Linked DNA regions of Homo sapiens: all the other regions are linked to region 1. The links come from fine-mapping of genetic effects on gene expression. A gene starts in region 1. Each other region holds a variant in brackets. All regions are shown on one strand. Distances are from middle to middle. Region 1 holds the start of PARVG (parvin gamma). Region 2 has its middle 13 kb from the start of LINC01656. Region 3 overlaps PARVG (parvin gamma). Region 4 overlaps PARVG (parvin gamma).

What was found. PIP is the estimated chance that this variant, and not a neighbour inherited with it, causes the effect.
Region 2: its variant is the best candidate, but not a certain one, in a credible set for the expression of PARVG in T cells (TOPMed, PIP 0.56).
Region 3: its variant is the best candidate, but not a certain one, in a credible set for the expression of PARVG in whole blood (INTERVAL, PIP 0.65).
Region 4: its variant is the best candidate, but not a certain one, in a credible set for the expression of PARVG in whole blood (TOPMed, PIP 0.86).

Annotation. Positions count from the first base shown.
Region 1 is chr22:44,178,047-44,184,071 of GRCh38, reverse strand. It overlaps PARVG (parvin gamma), which reads right to left and starts at 3,147. Exons shown (of 14, transcript NM_022141.7): 1 at 2,887-3,147; 2 at 2,155-2,330; 3 at 664-754. The coding sequence starts at 742. RefSeq lists enhancers at 1,567-1,656, 970-1,699, 1,700-2,429, 2,430-3,160 and silencers at 2,537-2,666, 3,837-3,886.
Region 2 is chr22:44,452,877-44,458,901 of GRCh38, reverse strand. No RefSeq gene overlaps it. Among named protein-coding and RNA genes, the nearest start is that of LINC01656, 13 kb to the right of the region's middle. RefSeq lists an enhancer at 3,166-3,315. The variant G/C (reference allele first, on the strand shown) is at 3,016.
Region 3 is chr22:44,200,693-44,206,717 of GRCh38, reverse strand. PARVG (parvin gamma) reads right to left here. Exons shown (of 14, transcript NM_022141.7): 13 at 889-961; 14 at 1-401. The coding sequence ends at 292. Among named protein-coding and RNA genes, the nearest start is that of PARVG, 23 kb to the right of the region's middle. RefSeq lists enhancers at 1,579-2,079, 2,080-2,580, 3,841-4,650, 5,462-6,025. The variant C/G (reference allele first, on the strand shown) is at 2,862.
Region 4 is chr22:44,207,320-44,213,344 of GRCh38, reverse strand. PARVG (parvin gamma) reads right to left here. Exons shown (of 14, transcript NM_022141.7): 14 at 4,876-6,025. Among named protein-coding and RNA genes, the nearest start is that of PARVG, 29 kb to the right of the region's middle. The variant A/G (reference allele first, on the strand shown) is at 2,453.

The DNA.
Region 1 (6,025 bases):
GGGAGGTTGCAGGAACTGTGGCCGCCAACCCCCCAAAGGGCTCATGACACAGAGCTTTACTGAAAGGGCGACCTATAGTCGTTGAATTGCTCCATCCTATGCTCACCCCACTTTTGAAAGGGACCCACACGTGTGAGGGGAGCACGTCAGGAGCCCCACACCCTGCAAAGTATCACTCCATGGTGGGCATCGCTGCGTGGTCCGTGTGGAACCTCAGTTCTGGGACCACCCTCCTTGGGCTCAGAACCCAGGTCCACCACTTGCTAAGAGTTTCCTGTTACTGTGGCACGTCACCCCTTGTGCCTCAGTTTCCTCATCTGTATAAAGCAGGCACTGATGCCCGCCCTTGAGAATAAATGAGTTGCTATTGGTAAGAGGTGCTGGTGCAGTAGGGGCACTCAGAAGGCTCACAGGATGAGAGCAATCAGTATTCACCATCGTAATCCACACCGTCTCTCATCTGGAGAGAAGAGGTTCTAGCTCTGTAGAAGGTCCCAGGAGGAGGAGTTAGGTCAAGCATAAAGCAGAAGGTGGAGGCAGGGGTGAGCAGAATTGGGCGCTCAGCTGACAGCTGGGAAGGTGCTGCAAGTCCCAGGCATGGCCAGGCTCACTCTTGCCACACAGACCTTCACCCTCCACCCTCAGACCTGCGTGGGCACACACCTTTTGAGAGCTCCTCCTCCGCTGGGGGCTCCACCCCCTTGGGGAGCTGCAGCAGGTCGTACAAGAACTCCGGCTCCATCGCCTCCCAAGCCTGCACAGAGGAGGCAGGAGAGGGCGTCACGGTCTGAGAAGCCCCAAACTCACTGAGCCCCTCATTTTCTCTAGACCTGGAGGCACAGAAGGAGGGTAGAAGCCAGGTTCTGGGGACACGTCAGCATGCCAGCCTAGGCAGGGGGTACGGGCCCTGTGAGAAAGAGCCCTTGAGCCAACCCTTGCGGGGTGACGGGTTAGAAAAAGGCACAGAAGCTGAGGGCGGGCACAGCCAAGCAAAGGCTTGGCGGAGGAAGTGGTCCTTCCTCAGGCAGGTGCAGAGCGGCCGCCCACCGTGCTCCTGCAGCCCCCAGCCCCCTACCCAGGGACCCCCCACCCTATCCCAGACAGGACAAAGTAGGTACAGCTCACTCCTCAGAGCTTGTCAGGTTGAGCTCAAGGGAAACCTCCCCGGTCGGCCTGTGTGGGGCTGGCTGAGGTGGATACGTGGAATGGTGACATCTCCCATCCCATAAACCGGAAGGGCCAGGGTTGACAGAGGCACTGTTCATCTTCCTCCTCCTCATTACAGGCAGAAGGCTGGGCTCACCACATGCCCGGGACAGGGGCAGACCCAGAGGCCAGCCCAGCCCTCCTTCCTGTTCCCCTGGCCCACTTCCTCTCCTGTGAAGGCTTCGCTGGCTCGGCTGGCGCCTTCTGGCCTCCCTCTTCCTCCCTTTTCAGCCCCTGGGTCTTCTCAGTGTTTTCAAACTCAATCAGACATTGAGGTAGGGGAGTCACATGGCAGAAGTTGGTGGCCAGAGCAGGGAGCCCCCTGAGCTGTGGGAGACGGAGGCATTCACTCGACTGGAGCCACCCATGTCACACCAGCAGCCAGCCTGGGGCGGGGGATGCCAGACTCCATCCTGCCCTGTAGCATGGAGGTGGTGGGGACACAACTGACTCCCAGCCCCTTAATATCCAAGCTGAGGGCCATGGCCAGAGAAAACGAAAGAGCCTGGCCTGGGCGTCAGGAAGCCTGGGTCCCAGGCCAGCTCCTCCTCACTCAGGCTGTGTGACGTTGGGCAAACCCCCTGCCCTCTCTGGTCCTGATGCATGGTTACAAGGAGGGCCTGGACTCGATGCTGCCCAAAGGGATCAGCAGCCTGGGCAAGCCCCTTCCTGGCCCCAGGGCCTCAGTTTCTTCACCTGGAGACGGAGGGGTTGGCTGAAGTTCAGAGGCGGCAACTCCTCAGTAGAACAGGGAGGGAGGACGCCGAGCAGCCTCTGAGCAGGGGCAGCCGGAGGGGCCGTGGGGACTCAAGGTCCCACTTTACCGACTCCCTTCCCCGGGTGGCCTGGGCTGGGACTGCACTCTGGGATCCTTCCCAGGTGGTGTCTGGGCCCCTCCCTCCGTGACCCCCAACACTCAAGTATGGTGGCCCCGATGCCAGAACTCACCCAACCGCTTTCCACGCAGGAAAACAAAGGCCTACTGAGTGCAAAGGGTGGTCCCTGGATTCCGAATGGAAGCAAGTTCCGGGTTCTTCTGGGGTCTTCGGGGACCAGGCCGGGAGGCAGGAGCCCCGCTGCTCACTTCCTCCAGGCCCGCTCAGCCGGCAGGAGCTTCCTCCTCTCTGCGGCAGGGCCCGAGGGGGGTGGATGCCGTGAAAGTGAAGCTGCCACAAACCTCCAGAAAGCTCTGCCCGGAGCCCCAGCGCCCGCCGTGCCGCCTGGGCCCCCGGGGTTCTGCAGGCCACTTAAACTCAATGCTTTCATTTCTCCCCCTCTCCCCGCCTTCCCCAAACCATGCCAGTTTCCCCGCAGGCTGTTCACCTCCAAAATGGCAGCTACATAGGCCAGAGCCTGGGGTCGACCCCCGCAACCCACCACCAGCACCCTGTCAGCCTGGCCTCCACCCTCCATCCCGCACCGCCGTCCTCCCACCTCCACACCCCGCCCCGGGCCAGGCCCCTTCCTCTCCCGGGACCACGCAGGAGACTCCTACCTGGACTCTCGGCTGCAGACTTCCCCACGCCCCCTGCCCGCCCCTGAGCTGAGGCTCCCACAAGCCCTCGGAGGAGTGAGTCACTTCCTGACCCCACTCACTCAAACCCACCAACGGCACCCAATAGCTCTTAAAATAAAATCCAGGCTGTGCGTGGTCTGTCTCTCTCAATCGCGGTTACATACCCGTGTCTAGAACAATGCTTGGCACAAAGTGGGCTCAGTGAATAAATATTGGTGGTGGTTGTTGCCAAGGGGATCGGGAAGGCTTTCCAGAGGAGAATGGGGCCTTGACGGCTGCATAGGAGTTTGCAGTGGAAGAAGAAGGGGTGAGAACGTGGCAGGTGGAGAAAACAGCGTATGCAAAGGCATAGCAGGGTTCGAGAAGGAGAGATCTCAGCACAGTAGATAGAGAAACACTTCAGACCCGAGCTGGTCTCTCAAGCTGGAATCTTCACCATCCGGGCTGAAATGGTGAGTTTCCCTAGCAACAGGTGACTGGGAAGCTATCTACCCTTTCTGACAGGTTAGGCAGAAAGTGGCTAAATCAGGTGGGATGCAGGTGTAAGGAGTGTGTGAGAGCAGGAAAGTAGGGTCGTTTACAAGAAGTTAATAAAAAATGACAAAACTTAGTACTGGTATTGTTGCTAATATTTATGGAGTCATTGGTGATGAAACAAACATAATTTTAAGGGCTTTCATTTTACTGGAAACTTCCTTGTGAGGTAGGTACAATCATCACCCCCATATTACAGAGGAAGACACTGAGGCACATGAGTCAGTCCCTGCCATTCTGAAGTGCCCGTGCTAGACTGGGGCTTGTAACAGGTGGGGAGAGAAGCCACCGTGCAGGACCTATTTTGCTGGGGCGTGTGTAGCAGGCTCAGCCCAGCTCTGGACACAGTGGTTCTGGTGGTGGCTTCTGACTCTGGATCACAGCCACATAGATGTAGCAGCAGTCACAGTCCCAGCAGCAAAGAGACGGTATATTCCCATGTGCTAACTGAAGACTGTTTAATAAAGGGACAGCTGGGGCAGGGTTAAAGGAACCCAGAAGAGACAGTGCTACACCCCAGGCTAGCAACATGGGGAGCTGTTACTTCTTCAAAACCTAGAGGGTGAAGGAGGGAGTGGGTGGCAGAGCCCAGGAACAGAATCACTGAAGCTCTAAGAGGGGCCTCGGGATAGGAGCTGTGGCCTTTGGTAGAGGGACACAGCCAGCTCATGGTGAACCAGCAGAAGGGCACAGCTGGAGGAATCAATGACCAAGCCTCACTCTCCTCCCTCCTGCCAGGGCCTCCCCTGCCCACATCCAGCCAGAAGCCAGAGAAAAGAAGTCCCCTGCTGCGGCCCATAGATGTGAGGAGAGAAAATGGTGGGGAGTGGATCTGCAGAGGTGAACCTAAAGCATTCAACCCAGAAAGCATGCTTCTAGGGCCAGCCTGACTCGGCAGCTTCCTTCAGGAGCCAGCTCTGCAGTATTCTTCCAAGAGTCCTTGCTGGAGGCGCTGCCTCCAGCCTTCCAACAGCTTGAGAATCACACAGCTTCCTATGTTAGATTCCTTTCTCCTCCAAACAACTGAAGAGACTCTAATCATCGGCAACTGAATCCCAATTAACTTCGGATTTGTTACCAGAAACAATTGCAGGCAACACGACCTCCAGGATGGGAACTGGGATTGGTTACTTGTTCTGGTTGATTTAAAGGCAGTGGGGACCTAGTAACTGTTAGAGAATGGAGTTCTAATAGATCGTAGCCTGTGATGGCAAAATAATTACCTGTCATCACTCAGAACGAAGTACCTATTAAATTGTGGCTTTGGCAGAGTTGTGGCTTCCATACGCAATACGAGCACAGGTTATCTAAGGACTGTGGGGTGAGCTTGTTATCATCACACCAAAGAGTTTAAAGCAAGAAAAGGACAGTCCCAGGGCTTTACATTCTCAGCTCAAGGTATGTGCAGAATACAGGGAGTTCTCTGATAGCCCTCAAAGCTATCTCTCATCTCTTGGGGCTGCAGGGCTGATGTAAGAATCAGATGCGAAATCTAATCCTGTATGGTGTGGAGTTACAACAGACTAAATCCACAACTCACAAAGCCTCTTGTGTGTAGAGCATTGTTTAGGGGAAGAGAGGGACTCTAAGAATTGGAAGAGTAACATGGAGATAAGTCCAAGCACCCCCAAACCCCAATTAAGAGAAAGGCATGGATAGAAGGGAATTATTCCAGCCTTTTTTTTTTTCAGAGACACGGTGTGAAATATACCTGTGCAAATATGCCAAACACTACTGAACTGTATACTTAAAAATAGTTAAGACAGTACATTTTATGTTACGTGTATTTTTAACCACAACTAAAATTTTTAAAAATTAATAAAAAATAAATAAATTGCAGGGATCACATCACTTTAGGGATATCTCTAAATACTTCAGAATGTTTCTCCTAAAAACATTCTCCTGCATAACACAGTACCATTATGATACCTAAGAAAATTAGCATTGATAGAAGGTTTTCTAATATCTCATCCACATTCAAACTTCACCAAGGCTTCAAAAAATGTCTATTACAGCTGTATTTTTTTTAATCCAAGATCCATTCAGGCATCACACAGCACATGTGATTGCATTTGGTTTTCATGTCTCTTTAGAGCCCTGTAATCTAGAACAATCTTTCACGACACTAACATTTTTTAAACATCCAGGTCAGTTGTCCTGTAGAATCTATCACTTCTGTCATTTCCTGGTCTGCTTCTGTGGACTGATTTTTCTCCCGATTGTGGGTCACAGTTTCCTGCTTCTTTATAATAATGTTTTATTGAATGCTAGACATTAAATTTTTATGTCGTCGCGTGCTGAATTTTGTTGCATTTCTTTAAGAAGTGTTGGAATTTTTCTGGCAGAAATATTCTTTTGATGTCTGTTTTTAATAAGCGTAATCTCTGCAAGCTCTGATCTTTGTCTCCTTAAATCAGTGAGACCTGGCTCTGTCTGGGTCCCCCTCACTACAGCACAGTCCAGGAATTATGTCCAGGCAGAAAGCCAAGACCAGGGTAGGGCTCACCTCACTTGCCACCCTTTTCTTGGGGATCACAGATCTGACTCGCCTCTTAACATTTTACTTTTATATAGTTTCAAACTCACAGAAAAGCTGCAGGAAAGTACAAAGAGTTCCTATGTGTATTAGTCCATTTCCATGCTGCTAAAACAGACATACCCAAGACTGGGTAATTTATAAAGAAAGACAGTTTAATGGACTCACAGTTCCACCATGGCTGGGAAGGCCTCACAGTCATGGTGGAAGGTGAAGGGGGAGCAAAGGCATGT
Region 2 (6,025 bases), 270 kb before region 1:
GGGGTCCACCAGCCCTCATCCCTTGGGAATAGAGCACCTGGCTGACGGTCCCTGGAGCTCATGCAGAAGCTGGAGCCTTTGGGGGCTTGGTAGGAAGACGTGAGCATGTGGGGCACACTGAACATGGAGAAGAGAAAATGCAGCAGCTTTGCTCAGAGAGGCTCTTTCCACCAGGGCCCGCGGGCCGATCGCCCAGGGCTTGGCAGAGCTGTGGCAGCACTCCTACGCCAGCTCAGGTGCAGGAGCAGGGCTGGGGGTGGAACCAGGAGAGTGAGGTCAAGGCTAGAGGGACGGTGCCTGGCCGTCCTCACACCTCAGCTGCCAGAGGTGGCCTGGGGACCCACTCCAAAGCCCCTGGGTGTAGCCCGCCTGGAGCAGAGCCCTGCAGCTGCCCTGGGCCCACATGGCTGGTTGCTAAGAGACCAGAGCCTGGAGGCCGACAGCCAAATTTCAGGCTGTGACTGAGTAAGGACCCTGGCTTTTGCCTGTGGCTCATGGAGTCTTTAGAAACTGAATTCTCAGACAGCCACCTGAGGTTGAGGGGAGCAGGGCCTAGAGAAATCCCACAGCTGGGAGATAGGGTAGCTCGAGCTCAGCCCTCCCATCCTGCCTTGGAGCCAGTCCAGATGGGCCCAGAGGAGGTGGCACAGGGAGATGCTCCCAGTGGGCACACTAGCTCCCCAGGGCTCCCTGAGCTGCAGGAGGGATGTCTCCGATGTCACCCGGACCGTGCTTATCCTCCTCCCACCATGCTTAACCTCCCTGTGTGCCAACACATGCACACACGTGCATGCACACACCCCACGCAGACACCAGACATACACACAGCACACTCGTCACTCACACGCCACACACCCATGCACACACACACGCCACACCACATACTACACGTGGTTGCAGTCACACCAGATATAGATGCATGTTCCAAGATATCACTTTTTCTCTCCTCCAGGCTTCCTTCTGCCTTTTTCTAGAAAATCTCTAAGGTCCTGCATTAAATGTCAGATCACGGGAAAGGCTGTCCCTGAACTCGTTCAGCCGGGGGACTCTGTGATCCCTTACAGAGCACGGCCTATGGTGCAATTGTTGGTTGAGGGACTGAATGCACCTTACACTGTAAACTCCTTCGGGTCAGGAGCTGAAGCTTCTTTGTGGATTATAGCCAGTACGTAACTCAAGACAGGCTTTCACCAAATGCTTATTAAATTAAGAGGCCAGGCATGGTGGCTCACGCCTGTAATCCTAGCACTTTGAGAGGCTGAGATGGGAGGATCACCTGAGGTCAGGATTTCAAGACCAGCCTGGCCAACATGGTAAAACCCCGTCTCTACTAAAAATACAAAAACTAGCCAGGCGTGGTGGCGGGCGCCTGTAATCCCAGCTACTCAGGAGGCTGAGGCAGGAGAATCACTTGAACGCAGGAGGCAGGGGTTGCAGTGAGCCGAGATTGTGGCACTTCACTCCACCCTGGGCGACAGAGCGAGACTCTGTCTCAAAAAAAAAAAAAAAAAAAAAAAAAAAGGAATGAAGAGTTGAATGAATGAGTGACAAAAAAACAGAACCAAGATTTGTTAAGTGCTGGGCCAGAGCCCTTTCTTCTGTCTCTCTCTTTTGAAAGGGTAAGGATATTTTACTCATTCTGCTTACGTTTAATGCATTTTGTTATTTTAGCTCAAACATAATTGCCTTTTCAGCATTTTTCTTCAAAATGATGATTTAGGGTCATCCAAATCTCAGTGCACATAGTGATAATATTTCTATATGATTTCCATTCAAAGTGAAGAATTTAAAATTTGGGGATGCTTTCAATAAGATCTAGTGAACAAAAGGAGCTTTTGCCCAAGATGATATCTTTTAAAATGTGCTCTATAAAGTTGCTTGGGGTCTAGGAGAACTAGATGATGGGGCTTTTCTAGGAACATCTGCGGACAGGCTTCCAGGCCCTTCCCAGAGTCTCTGCCCATCCAGGCCTTCTCCCCGGGTCCCTGAGGCCTCCACCACCTCCCCTCCAGCTTGCATCCCCCTCTACAACTATCTGAAGGGTCCCGACCAACATCTGCACCTCCCCTACCAGGCTTTACTCCCAGCCTTCTTTTTGAACAGGAAGGCATCTCGAAACTCAGTGTCCCAGGAATAAACTGTTCGTATGTACCCTCTGAGCCTCTGGAAAGAGGCTCATCTGAATCTTCAGGAGCAGGTTGAACAGCATCAGGAAGCAACAGATGTTTCAGCCCTGTCTAGGGCTCCATCATTCTAGGTGCAGAACATCTAGGCCCTCTCCAGCCAGGGTTTTTTCCTGGACTGAGAGCTGATTATTTTATTTTATTTTATTATTTTATTTTTTTGAGGCAGAGTCTCACTCTGTTGCCCAGTCTGGAGTGCAATGGTGCGATCTCGGCTCACTGCAGCCTCTGCCTCCCTGGTTCAAGTGATACTCCTGCCTCAGCCTCCTGAGTAGCTGGGATTACAGGCACCTGCCACCACGCCTGGCTAATTTTTTTGTATTTTTAGTAGAGACGGGGTTTCACCATGTTGGTCAGGCTGGTCTCGAACTCCTGACTTCAGGTGATCTGCCCATCTTGGTCTCCCAAAGTGCTGGGATTACAGGCATGAGCCACTGTGCCTGGACTGCTTATTTCTAAACCTAAATTTAAGCTTTCATTCTCTCCCTCCATTTCACTCTCTGCCCTGAGTGTGGGTCATGGTCGTCTTAAGATTAAAAACCAATGATCGAGTGGATGAGTCAAAAATGCTGGACTGATGTCTTGATTTGACTTCCCACTCTGCCACCAGTGGTAAGTCAGGTTTCTCATCTGAGCCTCTGTTTGCTCACCCTGTAAAGTGGGAAAATCCTATGACCCTATTTTTGTAAAGATAAGTCAAGAAAATGAACTGCTATTAGTGGAGGGCTTCATGACCATGAGAACTACAGAACCTGAAGAAAAGCATCCAAATAGTCCGGGTATTCATGCACGGTAAACCCCTGGAGGCACGTTCCTCTGTGACCGTGCATGC[G/C]TGTGCACACATACGAAGGTGACTGGCTCTCCCGCGACTCACAGAGGTGACTCCGGCAGAAACACAACGCCAGCACAGCAGGTCCTGGGGTGTGATGGTACCTCCTCCTGGGTGTCAAGTGGAGACCAGAAGTGCAGAGGACCAACCTCCTAAAGGCAGAAGAAAATGGCAAGTGGCCAATCGTTATATGTTGAGGCTACCATTGCATGTTCTGGGTTTACCACCTCTGTTTACCAGCCCGGTAGCCCTGGGCCTATCACTTAATATTCTTGTGCCACAGTTTCTTATCTTCAAAATCTGGATAATAATGGTAGCCACCTGCTCAGGATGTTTTCAGTTGCAAAGAACAGGAAACCACAAGAACCCAAATGGGCTTTTAAAGTAAATGTCAAGATGACATTCGTTTGCTAAACCGAAAGGCTCAGGTGAAGTGTGACTCAGCCGTTCAATGATGTAACAGAATATCTACTTTTGTTTTTTGCTTTCCCTCTACTTTCCTTTCTATGACATCAGATTCATCCTAAAGCTGGCTCCCTTTAGAGTCCAAAGAGGTCTGCCAGTGGCTCCCAGGCCTGCATGCCTCCTCATTAACATCCTTTGAGAGAGACAGAGTTTCGTTGTCTCATGCAAATATCACTACAGGTCCAAGTCATTCCTCAGAGGCTGGTATTACTCTTATCGGACCAATCTCAGTCCACCCCCAAATTGGAACCAATTACTAGGCCAGGGGATGGAATACACTGACTGGTTCAGATCAGATCACATGCTCCAGCCCTGGGACTGAGAGTAGAGCCAGTTTACTTGGACATCGAAACGGACATAGGGGACGGTGGGAAGGGAGAATAATGCTAGGAGGTGACGATTATTTATTATAGTCCTCACAGCCCTTGGCTACCCAAGGTTCATACAGATCCTTCCTCTTCCCATGAACATTCAAAGTTGCCTACATCCATATAAACACAAAGAAGACAACCAAAATCTCTTCCAGCCTTCCAGGGACTGCCTTCATCTCCCAGTTCAAGATCTCATTCCAGGAATATTTACAGTCCTTCCATCAAATCTGGATGGAAGTTATCATAGTACAGGGAAAGAATAATAAAGAGAAATTAGCTCACAGGACCGAGATGTCCAGCAGGAGAGAGGCTCCTGGTGTGGTTTGGTTTAGAGGTTCTCAATGGCATTGGTGCTCCAGATGTTCCTCTGTAATTCTCTCATATCAATCCTTCACCAAGCAGGGGCTTTTCCCCAGTGGGGTTTCCTTATAGCTGCCAACAGCTCCCAGAGTTACTTGGGCCCTTGTCCCTGTACCATGGTAGCAAGAAGGCAGTCAAGTTTTGAGTCATTGCAAATCGGCCAGCATAGACTTTTGAGGTTGCAAGCAACAGAAATGCAACCCTAGCTTAAAAGAAAAGGGAAGTTATTTGTGGTCCGTGTGCCTGGGATGGGGAGGACACTGGATGTCCCATAGCAAGGGTGACAGGGCTCAGGCCACTTCAGCAAGGTTCTAAGGGGCAGCCCCATTGCTGTCGTGGATGGGCAGCACCCTCTGCCTTCCCCTGCCCTCCCTGAGCTGTGGCTCCTCAGTAAGGAGTTGGACACACAAACCCTCAGGTCCCGGAATCGAGGGGACCCTGAAGGGCATCCACACACCCGAGTATCATGGTACAGCAACACACGTGCCCCCATGAAGGGACAGTCTAGACTCCCCAGCCTCCCATCCAAGGCCAGCAGAAGCGCTTTTGCCAACATGCAGCCGGCTCCGCATGTTACCTTCTCAACCCAATTAAAGGTGGCTCTAGGGAGCGAGCTCGGAGCTGATAAATGTGCAGAAAGCAAACTGGACGCAACCGGAAGGCAAAATCTTTCCCATCACATAGACCAACTGTGCTCTGGTGGTCACATGGGATCTTTCCCATCACATGGACCCAATTAGCCGAGCCTGTGCTGTGGTGGTCACATGGGGAGCTCACAGGCTGTGGGAATCCGGAGCTTGCAGTGCAGTGATGCTGTGGTCCCCAGGCATGGCCACTTGCCCTGACATAGCCTGAGTCTCCTTCACAGAGGTTTGGGTTGTGATTTTAATATAGAGGAATTGTCCTGGGCCCACATGATAATACCTGCCCTATTAAAATGCTTTTTGTCCCTGACACCTGGATGAGGCCCGAGGACAGGTGTGTGGGCAGGAAAAGTTCAGAAAGGAGCTGAGATTGAGCGAGGCCCTACTGCATACCAGGACTGCCATTCCCTGCCTCACCGCCATCGCCACAGTGCGGCCCTGTTATCCCCACATTCGTTTTCCTACGTGTGTGTTGGGGGAGGGATTTGGACTCTAAACGCCCCCTCCCCTAAATCTGGAATTGGAAATTGCAGACATGGGGTGGGAAGGTGGGGGCCCAATGAATAACTGATGGATGAATCAATGCCATTTTGAAACCTGCATTTCAACTTGACAATATATTTGCATCGATCAGGTTGATTTCAACGATGCTGCAGGAACAAACTGTCAAAGTCCCAGTGGCTTCAGTCAAACATGTGTTTCTGCCCAAGCAAAGTCCACGACAGGTGCAGGTGATTCCCCAGAGCCACAGTCTCCCAGGGATGGCTCAGCTGCCCCAGCTGACTGGAGCACCAACATCCCGGAGCAGCAAGTCGGGAGTGCGGGGCCACCCTGTCCGTTACAGTGGAAAGGGGTAGGCAGAGTGGTCCTTAATGCTTCTCCCTGGAGGTGACTCATCACTTCTGCAGACAGAGCAGGTCATAGGGTCACCCCTGATTTCAAAGGAGTGTGCACCTGGAGTGAGAGGAGAACCAGAAGTCCTGGTTCTTTCTTCCCCAGTGCTGGTGGGCTCTCTTCTCCAGCATCACCTAAAAACTTGTTTGTCTTGGGCTTGGCCTCTATCCTAGAACCTTCTGCTTCTCTGAGGCAGCCCCTCTGTCTGGTCTGTGTGGATGAGTGATTTCATAATATCTGATAAGCTCTTATCTGAGCCCTGATGAATTGGAATGGGGC
Region 3 (6,025 bases), 23 kb before region 1:
CCCCATGGGAGGGAGGCTGCAGGTTTAAGGGCCCTCCTCAGGACCCTGTCAAGTTCCCAGAATCCCTCCCAGAAATACTTTTATTAAAATAAACTGAGCAAGGCCAGGCGGCTCAAAATGATCCACACAAGGGGGTTCAAAGATAATCCAACGATGGAGACAGGAGACAGGGTGGGAGGGAAGCGGGTCACGAATGCACAGGAAACAGCGGGACTGTGGGAGGACACCCTGCAGCCTCGGGCCCTCCAGCTGGGCTGACAGGCAGGCTCTGGGCTTTGGAGGCAGTGAGGGTCAATTCGGGGCTCCATGGGGCGTCCTGTCCCTGTGTGCCTTCTGCGTGTGCTTGCAGAACAGACCATAGAGCACCCTCAGTGTGCTCTTGGCATCCTTGTTCACGATATCTGCGGGCCAAAGGAGGGCAGGGCAGCCAGTCAGGCCTGGGTGGCAGTGACCGACTGTCCCGATGTGGTCAAGGTTTCCTGGCATTCAGGATTTCAGTGCTAATCCCAGGAGAATCCCTGGAAGCCAGGACAGCTGGTCACTCCAGGCCTGGGTCCCGCGCCTGCTGCGTGACTGCCTCCTCCTCCTGGCCAGTCCTCCTCTGAATGCTCCTGTGGTGCCCCCAACACAGCAACTCCTCAAGGTCTGGCTTCTCTGGACAACCTGTCCCCAGAGACCTTGGTCTCCCCCTCCCCAGAACCTCTTCCCCTGGGGCTGCAGTGCCCCCTCCCAAGAAACCTTGGCAAGCGCCCATTCTCCACCCCTGCCAGGCAAGAGGACTCTGCCAATGCGTGCTCATCCCCCAATGCCCTGCACCCTGTTCTGTGGCTCTCGCACAAGGCTGCCACCCAGGGCTGGCCACCGTGTGGGCATCTGCCTTGCACTCACCTTCAGGGCTGACAGGGCAGCTGAGCAGGCCCTCGTCCTTCAGCAGCTCCAGCGCCAGGGTGACGTTGTGCAGCTATGATGACAAGGCCCTATCAGATGTGGGCACAAGCAGCAGCCCCAGGCCAGGCCTTGGGTCCCAAGTGCCAAGCCCTTCCTGTTGTCTGTGATGTCCATCATGAGCCTAAACTCCCATCCAAGGTGGGCATCCCTGACCACGACCACAATCCGTGGTCATCCAGCATCTCCCTACAGCTCACTCTGTCACACAAGCAATCCATGTCTCATTCCTCAGCCACTCACAGGCCCCACTCTGAGCAGGTGCTATACCACACTGGGCACACGCTTGCGTCCAGGGGCCACTGCCCGTGAAAAAGGCAATCGCCAAGGAGGATACCCAATAGGGATCAGGGAAGGCTTCCTGGTGGAGGTGAAGCCTGGTGGTGAGTCCCGCCAGGCAGGGAGAACTACCCAGGGAAAGGAGCAAGGGCCTGGGGTGGCAGAGCACCTTTGAGAACAGCTGTTTCCCAGGGCAAAGCACAGTGAGGAAATCAAGGCTCAGAGGAGCCAAGGGGCTCACTGGAGCTCACGAGACAGAAAGCGCTCAAACCAGGTCTGTCCGCTCCAATGCTCATGCAAAGCAGGCTAGAGACTGGAGCGGTCCCCACCCAGGTGGCTGTCCTTTCCGCCACCCCTTGCCTGGGGTGCAGTCTCAGAGATGGCTCCCTTTAGGGTGGAGAGCGCCCGGGCATCAGTCAAGTCCCCCAGTGATTCAGAGCTCAGCTTAGTCCCTGCCCAGGGCCTCCCCTTGCTCCCCTGCAAAGTGGGCTCACCACAGTTCCCCTGTGCCTTGCTACAGGATATGGTGAGAGCCCAGGAGCCTGCCGGCCCTCCCACAGTAGGTCCCCTCCCTTTCCATTCTAGCTTCTCCCTTGGGCCTCGTCTACAAGCAGAGTAGGTCCCAGCCCTTTGCCTTAGGGCAGCAGCCTGGTGTGGGTGAAGAGGGATGAACTCCTGGTTCACTGTGACCTCAAACAGGTCCTCCCTTCAATGTCTTAGCCACCCGTAGATCCACTAGACGGGGTGGACATCCCAGCCCGGGGGTCAGCTGTGCTGGTCCCGTTCCCTCCCTATCTGCCTGGCCACACCAGCCCCACCAGGACAGGGCAGTTCCCATGGCAACCCGCCAGGGGCCAAGAGGCCAGGTTGGCCGAGCGGTGGATGAGCAAGGCCAGGCAAGACTCATCCAGAAACGCCAGCCTGGCCCAGGCCACCTCCAGCCACCTGCTGGATGGCCCGAGCAAGAGGACTCTTGGGATCTAGCTTGGATGTCTGTGTACTGCCACCCCCATCCCTGCCACTAAGTGTCTGACCTCGGACAAGTCACACATCCTGGCTGGGCCTCAGGTGCCTCATCTGTGTCACGGGGATGATACACCTGTCTGCCTTCCTCTCCAAGGCTGCCATGTGCGTCCAATGTGATGACGGACACAGAATTGAAGCCACAAAGCAAGATTTGAAGGTGAGGATGATGAAGGCATAGGAGCTGGAAGTGGGTGAGCAGAGTCCTTCTCCACGTGGGGACATGAAGATGGAGGGCGGGTCCCAGATGGAAAGGAGTGTATGGGCAGGGTGCCCAGCAGCAGCAGCAGGGCCGCTCCTCTGTAGTCAGCCAACAAGAAGAAACAGGCTAGGCACGGTGGCTCATTCCTGTAATCCCAGCACTTTGAGAGGCCAAAGTGGGCAGATCACCTGAGGTCAGGAGTTCGAGACCAGCCTGGCCAACATGGTGAAACCCTGTCTCTACTAAAAATACAAAAATTAGCTGGGTGTGGTGGCACGTGCCTGTAATCCCAGCTACTTGGGAGGCTGAGGCAGGAGAATTGCTTGAACCCAGGAGGCGGAGGTTGCAGTGAGCCAAGATTGCACCACTGCACTCCATCCTGGGTGACAAGAGCGAAACAAAGGCTATCACA[C/G]GGCACCAATGTTGCAGCATGCTGCAGGGGCCAATGCGGGGTGAAACTCTGAGACTGTCCAGACCAAGATGGATGGGAAGCTCCGAGTGGACAGACCAGAGCATCACCGGAAGTTCCCATCACTGTGTCCCCAGTTCTTCCTCCTAGACTGGAATATTCTGGGAAACTAGGGTTGCAATTGTTGCTATTGTTCGCATTCTCATCACGAATATTATTTGCAGTTACATGGAGAGTAAATGTCGGAGTGAGAACAAGACCCTGAGGAACCTGAGGTTCCAGACTCCGCACTGTGCTCTCCTGCCTCAAAGCTCCGCCTTTGATACATTCAGCGAGCCAGCATCTCCCAAACTGTGATCTAAGATGGACAGGAAAGGGGATATCTGTGGCCAAACGTTTTTAGAAATTGTTGGATTAAATAAAATACTATGGAAGTCCTTCACTGCAGGACTTATTAGAGCCTTGAATGTGTTGGTGGGCCGCATGAACCTTCAAGACTAGACATGTTTCCCCAAGTTATTTATTCATAGAACCCATTTGTCACAGAACACCTCCTGGGACCAATGTTTTGGAAACACTTCGTTCATTCACTTATTTAAAAAAATACTTGTCATCTACTATGTGCTAGCCATACAACCAGTGCTCAAAACAGACCAGACCTCCTGCCCTCATAGAGCTTATGCTTTGGGAATTGCTATCGACACTGAAAATTATGACATCTGCTTCTGTTTGTCACACTCTTCCTCAATGACACTCAATCTGAACAAAAGATCATCCCCCAGTAAGAGCTGACCCTGGCTCCAGAGCTATCTCATGATGCTCTGTCCAGAGATTTTTCTTCCGCGTGTGGCTTGAGATGAAGATAAAACTACCACCTTCCACGGAGCTGAGAGAAGGTTACAACCCGGGAGGATACGTGCAAATCCTCCTGGGGAAAGTAATTTAACGTGGAAGGACGCCAAGGATTCCTGGCTCCGGGGATTTTATTTCTGGGAGCGAATGATCCTCTCTCCCTCCATCCTTAACTTCCGTGCCCACAATGAATAACTATCTCACATAAACACCATCAGCAAAGAGGGTCTGATAATGAGAAATCCAATTTCAAGAGGCTACTCTGCCAAGATAACAATTCCGCAGAGGCCCACCTTCAGCAAGGGCTGGTGTTCCCGCCCTCCTCAGCTGACGACCTCTTCAGCATTTTGATTACACATTCCTGCAGCAGAGATTGCCCACAATATGCTGTAAAAATTCATTCTTGGAGTCTGAGCTAAGAGGCTGCTGCTTTTCCCCCACATCTAATCTGACTCATATTCAGAAGTAAGTTCTAAAATCAGTGGATTCAGCAAAGCGGCTGCACACAGCAACATGGAAGTCTGCACGTTTGTTCCCGTCTTGTAACTGGGGCTTGGATGGTGCAACAGATTGAGCAGAGGCCCTGCAGCCCAGGGGCACCCCAGAGTGGCTCTGAGCTGGGTTCCGAGCCCCAGGCCCTCAGCCCGCAGGTGGTCCTGCCTGCCCCCTTCCTCCGCCTTCTCTCCTCACCGCTCACATTTCAGTGCCTTGCCTTCCCGAGGCAGGCTCTGACCCCAGTCTCAGCCTTGGCTTCAACCCCACTGAGCCCTGCCACCCCTCCATCTCCCAGAGACTCACATTGGCTCCACAGGAGGGAAACAGGGAGGACCCTAACTCACTGTGTGCTCTGGGCCAGACTTCTGTGCCTCTCTCAACTGTTTCCTCTGTGGAAGTGGGGATGGGAAGAGTTCCTAACTCCAAGACCCAACATGAGGATTTGCTAGCACATTCGTCCACACTGCCCGTGGGAGATCCCACCATCGGCCCAATTCTGCACCCACACACTTTGCAGGGCTGTCCCATGTCACTGTCAAGGCCACAGGGCCTGCTTCGATGGAAGTGGCAGCCTGCCCATTCTGAGCCAGGGCCTCATGCCTTCTGCCTGGTCTCTCATGTGTCTGCCATTGCCAGGAGGAAAGCGTGCCCGGGCCAGCTGCTGGTCCCAGAAGGAACATGGCAGGCTGTGGCACAGAGCCGAGCCACCCAGCCACGACAGCCTGATCCCTATCCAGTCCTCGGAGGAGTGACAAAGCCTAGCTGAGCCTCTAGCAGCTAAACTCAGCCGACCTGCCGGTCTGTGGGAAGAAATGAGCATGGTTTTCAGCCCCTAGGTTTTCGGGTGGTTTGTTAAGCAGCACGTTTGTGGCAATGGCTGGCTGATGCAGCTCCTCCGAATGGAAGAACCTAGGAAGCAGCAGGCACCGTGCCTGCCACAACCACCAGGACCGTAGACACTGACTGCCCCGGCCTCGTTGCTCTGACCCAACATCCCAGCTCTTGGGAACCAAGTCCAGAGCACCTGGCCTCCAGGGAAGGTGGAGGCCACACCCACTCAAGATGCATCCCCGTGGGGGCGAGGGACATGGCAGGCTGCGGGCGGCAGGCTGTGCTGGTGTGAGGCTGCCATTGAGCAGCTGGGTGGTACTGGGTAAGCCTCTCGGGCCCTGGGCTCCCCTCTGTAAAATGGAGATGCAGCCCTGCCCCGCTCTCACAGGGGCAAGGAGGGAGGGTGAGTGGGGAGAGGGCCAGGAGAGGCAAAGTGCAGGGAGCTAACCCCAAGGGAGTGTGGACTGTGGTACAGGGCCCCACAGAGCGCCGAGGGACTGCAGAGGAGCTGAGAAGGTGGGCAGAGCTGGCCGCCCGCCCAGGGAAGCAGGTGGGAAGCAAAGCCAGGGTAGGCTGGGCTGAGAGCACAGCCTGCGTGGATGTGAGGGAATGGGGGAGGACCAGGCCCTGGAGAGCTGGAAGGGGGCCAGAGGTCATGTGGCTGTGGCTGTGGCTGTGGCTGGGAGTCGGCAGGAAGGGAGGAGGGGACGTGGTCGGGGAGGCAGATGGGGCTTGGCAGTTGGGTGCTCCACTTGAAGCAGGGGAGAGGCACAAGGGTGGGTGTCCAGGAAGGTTAAGGGGAGCGGCCTAGAAGAAGGGCCTAGGTGGAGGGGGAGTCTGGTAGGGGTCCAGGGGGGACCTCACCTGCTACTGGGCCCCAGATAGGCCAAGAGGCCTGATCCAGGGCCAAGGACGCCCTGAGCATGTGAAAGGGATGGAAGCCTTTGTCTCTCCCAGAAACAGCCCCAGAGGCTGGCCCTGGGACGGGG
Region 4 (6,025 bases), 29 kb before region 1:
CAAGCTCTCCAGATACTCAACTTTTTAAATAGCCCTGTGAAGAATAGATTCCTTATTGCCTCCATTTGACATAGAAGGAAACTGAGGCTTAGGGAGGTAAGTGATTTGCCTGGGGTCACAGAGTGAGGTGAGGATTTGCCCAGGATTCACACCCCAGGGTCTGACTCAAGCATCACACTCTAACCACTGCACTACCCAGCCCCTTCCACCCTGGGCTACACCTCCTCTGGGATAGAGCCTCGGTCTGAGCACTCTCTTTATACCCAGCTCTGTGCCCTGGGCCTGCACACAGTAGGTGGAGAAGTTCTCTTATGAATGGTGTGTGCACTATGATTTTGTACCTTTGTAAAAACCCACCTAGGTATTAATGCATCACCTTTCTAGGTAATAATAAACCAACCCATATGAAATGCTTGTGGATAAATAAATGAATTCATGCAATTGTTGGCCAGCCCAGGTCCATTGGCTGACTCTTCTTGGAAGAATCATTTCTGGAACATCTTCATCATCTACTTTCTTACCAGCCAGGCCCCTCAGCCCAGTCCCCCATTGACCTAGGGGCCCAGGACACTCCCTGGGCTACACCCCCAGGGGGTGGGGATCCCATGTGTCTCTAGGTCCATGATGCCCCTCTGCTCACCACTGCCCAAGTCTTACAAGGAAAGAAGGCTGGTGGGGCAGGGATGGGGGTTGGGATGGCACTGGCAGCTTTGATCCATTGCCAGAAGATATGGGGGCAGGAACACACTTTTCTCTAGACAAGCTGTTCGCTTACCAGCTGACTTTGGTAAAAAGAAAAAAAAAAATCTTAGTTCCATCTGTTCCCAGAGTGGAGCTGGTGTGAGTCCTGGGGCTTCCTGCAGCTCAGGCGGCCAGACCCAGTTTCAGACTCCAAGACAGCTGCCCTCTGGATTATTTTGGGAAGCAGCTCAACTCCGAGGCACCCCAGCCTTCGAGGCATTTCCCTTCGCTTCGAAGCTGTTTGCACACCCAGCCCAAGCTGCCAGCTCCTTCTCTGGCCCTGGACGCCTTCCTGTTCAGCTTGCTATAATTATCCTGCTTCCAACTTCGGCTGCAACTTCTACTGGAGTCAGATTTCTTGGGATGGAGGAAGAGAGAAAAAGAGCGAAGGCCATGGATAGTGAAATAAGGGGAGGAAAGGGCTCCCTGATCCTGCTTCGTCTCAGACTTCTTTGTGGGAACCACTTCTTCCACCCACCCCCAGGCACCCAGGGCCCCCAGGCATCCACCTTGTCCCACGGTGAACCCTCTTCCCCACTCTCTTCTCAAAGAATGTCCCCACTCCTTTTCTGAATGACAAGTTCCTGGGGCAGGTGGGATGAGGGCATCTTGGGCAGAGGGAACAGCATCAGAAAGACTTGGAAAGATCGCAGAGATGTCAGGGATATAACTGGAAGCAGTGTGGAAAGGTTGAGGCAGGGACGGAGACAGAACACAGTGAGCAGGAGGACCACAAAGCCAGCAGCACCAGAGCACCCAGAGTCCAGACGCTGCCCGGAGGTTGGGGCCTGGGAAGGTTAGAGCAGGATGGTAGTGAGACTGGGTTCCGAGGACAAAAGCACTCTGGCTGCTGGTGCAGAAGTGAAGTCACAAGAAAGAAGTCCCTTTCTTGCGAAAGGGAGGCCAGCTGGAAAGTTCCAGAGTGAAGATTAGGGAACGGGGCAAGCTCTGACTTGGATGTGGTGAGCTTGGGGTGGGCACCCCAGGCACAGCTATGCCCTGGGAAGTTCAAAATATAGATTAGGTCAGAAAGTAGAATAGTGGTTGTTAGGGGCTAGGGGCTAGGGGAGGAAGATGGGGGTAGTTATTGTTTAATGGATACAGAGTTTCAGTTTTGCAAGATGCAAAGAGTTTTGTGGTTGGAGGGTGGTGACAGTTGCACAATAATAGGAATGTACTTAATACTGCTGAATACACTTAAAAATAGTAAGATGGTACATTTTGTGTTATGTGTATTTTACCACACACAAAAAAAAAAAGAAAAGAAAAAAGAAAGAAATGTGGGTCTGGAGCTCAGGGCTAGAGCTGCAGTGGAGATTGGAGAGTGACCCTTAGGGAGGAGGGACAGGAATTTTAGAAGCAGAAGGCATCGCCAGGAAAGCTGTTTGGAGTGGGAAGGACCAATACTGAATCTATTTCTGTAGGTACACAAGCTCACTAACATATAACCAACACTACACAAAATGATAAAGAAAGTCTTTTAGGCAGGAAGAAAATGATACCAAATGGAAGAAGAAACGATGAGCACCAGGAGTAATAAGTATGTGGGTAAATATAAAAGACTTTCTTCTCAATTAAAAAAAAAAAACTCTTTAAAAGGCAATCGATGTGGCTGGACACTGTGACTCATGCCTGTAATCCTAGCATACTGGGAGGCCAAGGCAAGTGGATCACTTGAGGCCAGGAGCTGGAAACCAGCCTGGACAACATA[A/G]GGAGACCTCATCTCTACAAAAAAAAAAAAAAAAAAAATTCTAAAAAAGTTAGCCAAGTGTGGTGGTGCATGCCTGTAGCCCCAGCAACTGAGAAGGCTGAGGTGGGAGGATCAATTGAGCCCGGGAGGTCGAGGCTGCAGTGAGCACTGCAGTCTGGGTGACAGAGTGAGACCCTGTCTCAAAAGAAGACAATTGACATTTTTAAGCAAAAATAATATATTGTGAAATTTATTCTATAGAAATGAGACACATGACAACAATAGGACACAGAAGAGTAAAATGGAAGTAATATTACTTAAAGGTAGACTGTAATAAGTTAAGATGTTATAGTAGATTAAATGGTGACCAAAAGGATTTGTCCACATGCTAATCCCCAGAACCTGTGAATGTTAACTTCTTTGGGAAAAAGGTTTTTGCAGATACAATTAAATTAAGGATCTTGAGATTAGATAATCATGGAAAAAAGTTTTTGCAGATATAATTAAATTAAGGATCTTGAGATTACATAATCGTGGATTATCTAGGTGGGTCCTAAATCTCATGACAAGCGCCCTTATAAGAGAGACACAGAGGAGGGATAGACAGAGAAAGGAGAAAGAAGCAAAGTGACTGTGAAGGTAGATATTAAAGTGATGCATCCACAAGCCCAGAGATGCTGGTAGCCACCAGGAGCTTGAAGAGTCAAGATACAGCTTTCCCTCTAGAACCTCCAGAGGGAACGTGACCCTTCCAACACCTTAATTTCAGACATCTAGCCTCCAGAATTGTGGGAGAATAAATTTCTGCTGTTTTAAGCCAAGAAGTTTGTGGTAATTTGTTACAGCAATGACAGGATATGAATGCAGATGTGTATATAAAGTCTAGAGCAACCCCTAGGAAATGAAAATAACGAAATACAGTTGGTAAGCCAATAATGGAAATAAATTCACATCGCTAAAAAGTCTTCAATCCAAAAGGAATAAGAAAAACATATGAACAAGGCAAACAGCAAGATGGCATTAATAATTCCATTAAATGTAAATGGACTAGAGGTACCTAGAATAGTCAAATTCACAGAGACAGCAAGTAGAATAGTGGTTACCGTGGTCTGAGGGAGGGGAGAAATAGTGGTTACCATGGCCTGAGGGAGGGGAGAATGGAGAGTTAGTATTTCCTGGGTGCAGAGTCTCAGTTTGGGTCGATGAAAAAGTTCTGGAGATGGATGGAGGTGATGGTTGCACAACAGTATGAATGTACTTAATGCCACTGAATTGTACACTTAAAATGGCTAAAACGGTTAATTTTGTGCTATGTATATTTTGCCACAATAAAAAATGTAAGTGGACTAAACCCTCTAATTAAAAGGCAGAGGTTTCCAGATTGTACAAAAAGACACAATTATTTGTGTCTATAAGAAACCTACTTTAAACAGACGCAGTTTAAAAATATAGAAAAACATATACCATGCTAATACTAACAGAAAGTTTGAGTGGCTATATTAATATCAGACAAAGCAGATTTCAGAGTAAGAGATATTACAAGGGATAAATGAGACAAAAGGACATTATAATCTTATATGAGGTATGAAACAAAAATTGATAGAACTGAAAGGGGAAATAGTGAAATGTACAGTTACAGTTGAAGATTTTAACACTTCTGTCTTGGTAATTGACAGAAGTAGTAGAGAGAAAATTAGCAAGGATATAGAAGATCTGAACAACATAATCAACCCACTTGACCTAATTGACATTTATGAAACATTTTGTCCAACAACAGCAGAGCACACATTCTTTTTCAAGTGCATACAGAATATTTACCAAGATAGACCATAATCCAGTACATAAAACAAGTCATAATGCATTTTAAGTGATTTAAATCATACAAAGCATGTTCTCTGACCACAACAAAACCCAATGCCAAAAGATAGCTGGAAAAAAAATCCCAAAATATTTGGAAATTATACACTTCTAAATAACCCATGAGTGAAAGAGGAAGTCACATTTGAAACTAGAAGATATTTTGAACTTCATGAAGGTGAAAACACAACATATTAGTATCTGTGGGATGCAGCTAAAGCTGTGCTTAGAAAAAAAAATCCAGCATTAAATATTTATATAAAAGAAAAATATTCTCAAATCAGTGATCTTAGCTCCCCAATATTTTTAAGATGTCAGTTTTCCCCAGTTTGATCTAAAGAACACAATTCCAGTCAAAATTTCAGCAGGCTTTTTTGCAGAAAATGACAAACTGATTCTAAATTTTATGTAGAAACCAAAAGAATTAAAAAGACCTAGAAAAACCAAAATAATTTTTGAAATGAAGAACAAAATTGGAGGACTTATTTTTGAATGTACTAAGGACATGAGTTGTTGATACAAGAAACAATGGAGATACTCTCAATAGCATTATGCTAAGTGAAAGAAATCAGACACAAAAAGCAACATACCATAGGATACAGTTTATAAGAAATTCTAGACAAGTCTAAATGATGGTGACAGAAAACAGATCAGTGGTCCCCAGGGCCAGGGGCTGGGAGAAGGGAACTGGCTGCAGACAGATGCAGAAACTTGCATGGTGATGGGAATGTCCCATGTCTGGATAACGATGGTGGTGGTTATATGACTGCATGCATTTGTCAAAACTCATCAAATTGTACACTTCAAACTGGGAAGTTATTTTTCAATAAAGCTACAGTAATTAAATAAGTCACTTTTTTTTTAATTGCTGTCAAATAGAACAAGAGTGAGGACGTGGAACAGCCAGGCAGAGCCAGCCTGCAGCGGATGGGGCCCAAGCAAGTGAGGACTCAAAGGCCCCAGGAAGTGGGGCTGGATTTCAGGCTTTTGGGATGAAGCCAGCTGAGAGAGGCTGAGCCTGTGTCCCCAGAAGCTCCAGGAGAGGATTTGAGGTGCTGGAGGGGGCATCGCAATGGAGGGGGCACCTGAGCAGGTGGAAGGAGCTGGGCTCCAGGTACCTGGTGTGGGAGGATGCACGTTTCCCAGAGGCAGCCGGGAAGTAGGGTGGGTATCCATGAAGAGGGGTGCATCTGAGTGCTCACGTGGAACACGCTTATGGGCTTGGGTTTGCCCTGTGAATTGGGAGCTGAGAAGGGCAGGCAGATGGGAGGCTAGGTGAAGGGAAGACCCCTCAAGGCCTTCTCACACCCAGACACCAGCTCCCAGGGCTGACCTGGCACTGCGTCCCTGGCTCCCATCTTGCTCCCCCGAAGGACATCTGCCTAGGCGCCCCCAGTGGGTGTCAATGATGACCTAGCCCCTAACCCCCATCTAAAGCCCCTCCCCAAGGCCTCAGCTGTCAAACTGTGAAAACCCCAGACCCAGAGGCCTCTTCAGGGTCCAGGGAGGAGCAGCAGCCTGGGGCTGTGGTTGCCCTTCTCCCCAGCCTCACCCCTCCCCACAAGTCCCACTCCTCCCCACAAGTCCCACTCCTCCCCACCAGGCCCCAGCCCTCCCCACCAGCCTCACCCCTCCCCGCCAGCCTCACCCGTCCCCACAAACCCTCCCCTCCCCGCCAGCCTCACCCGCCCACTAGCCTCACTCCTCCCCACCAGTCCCACCCCTCCCCGCCAGCCT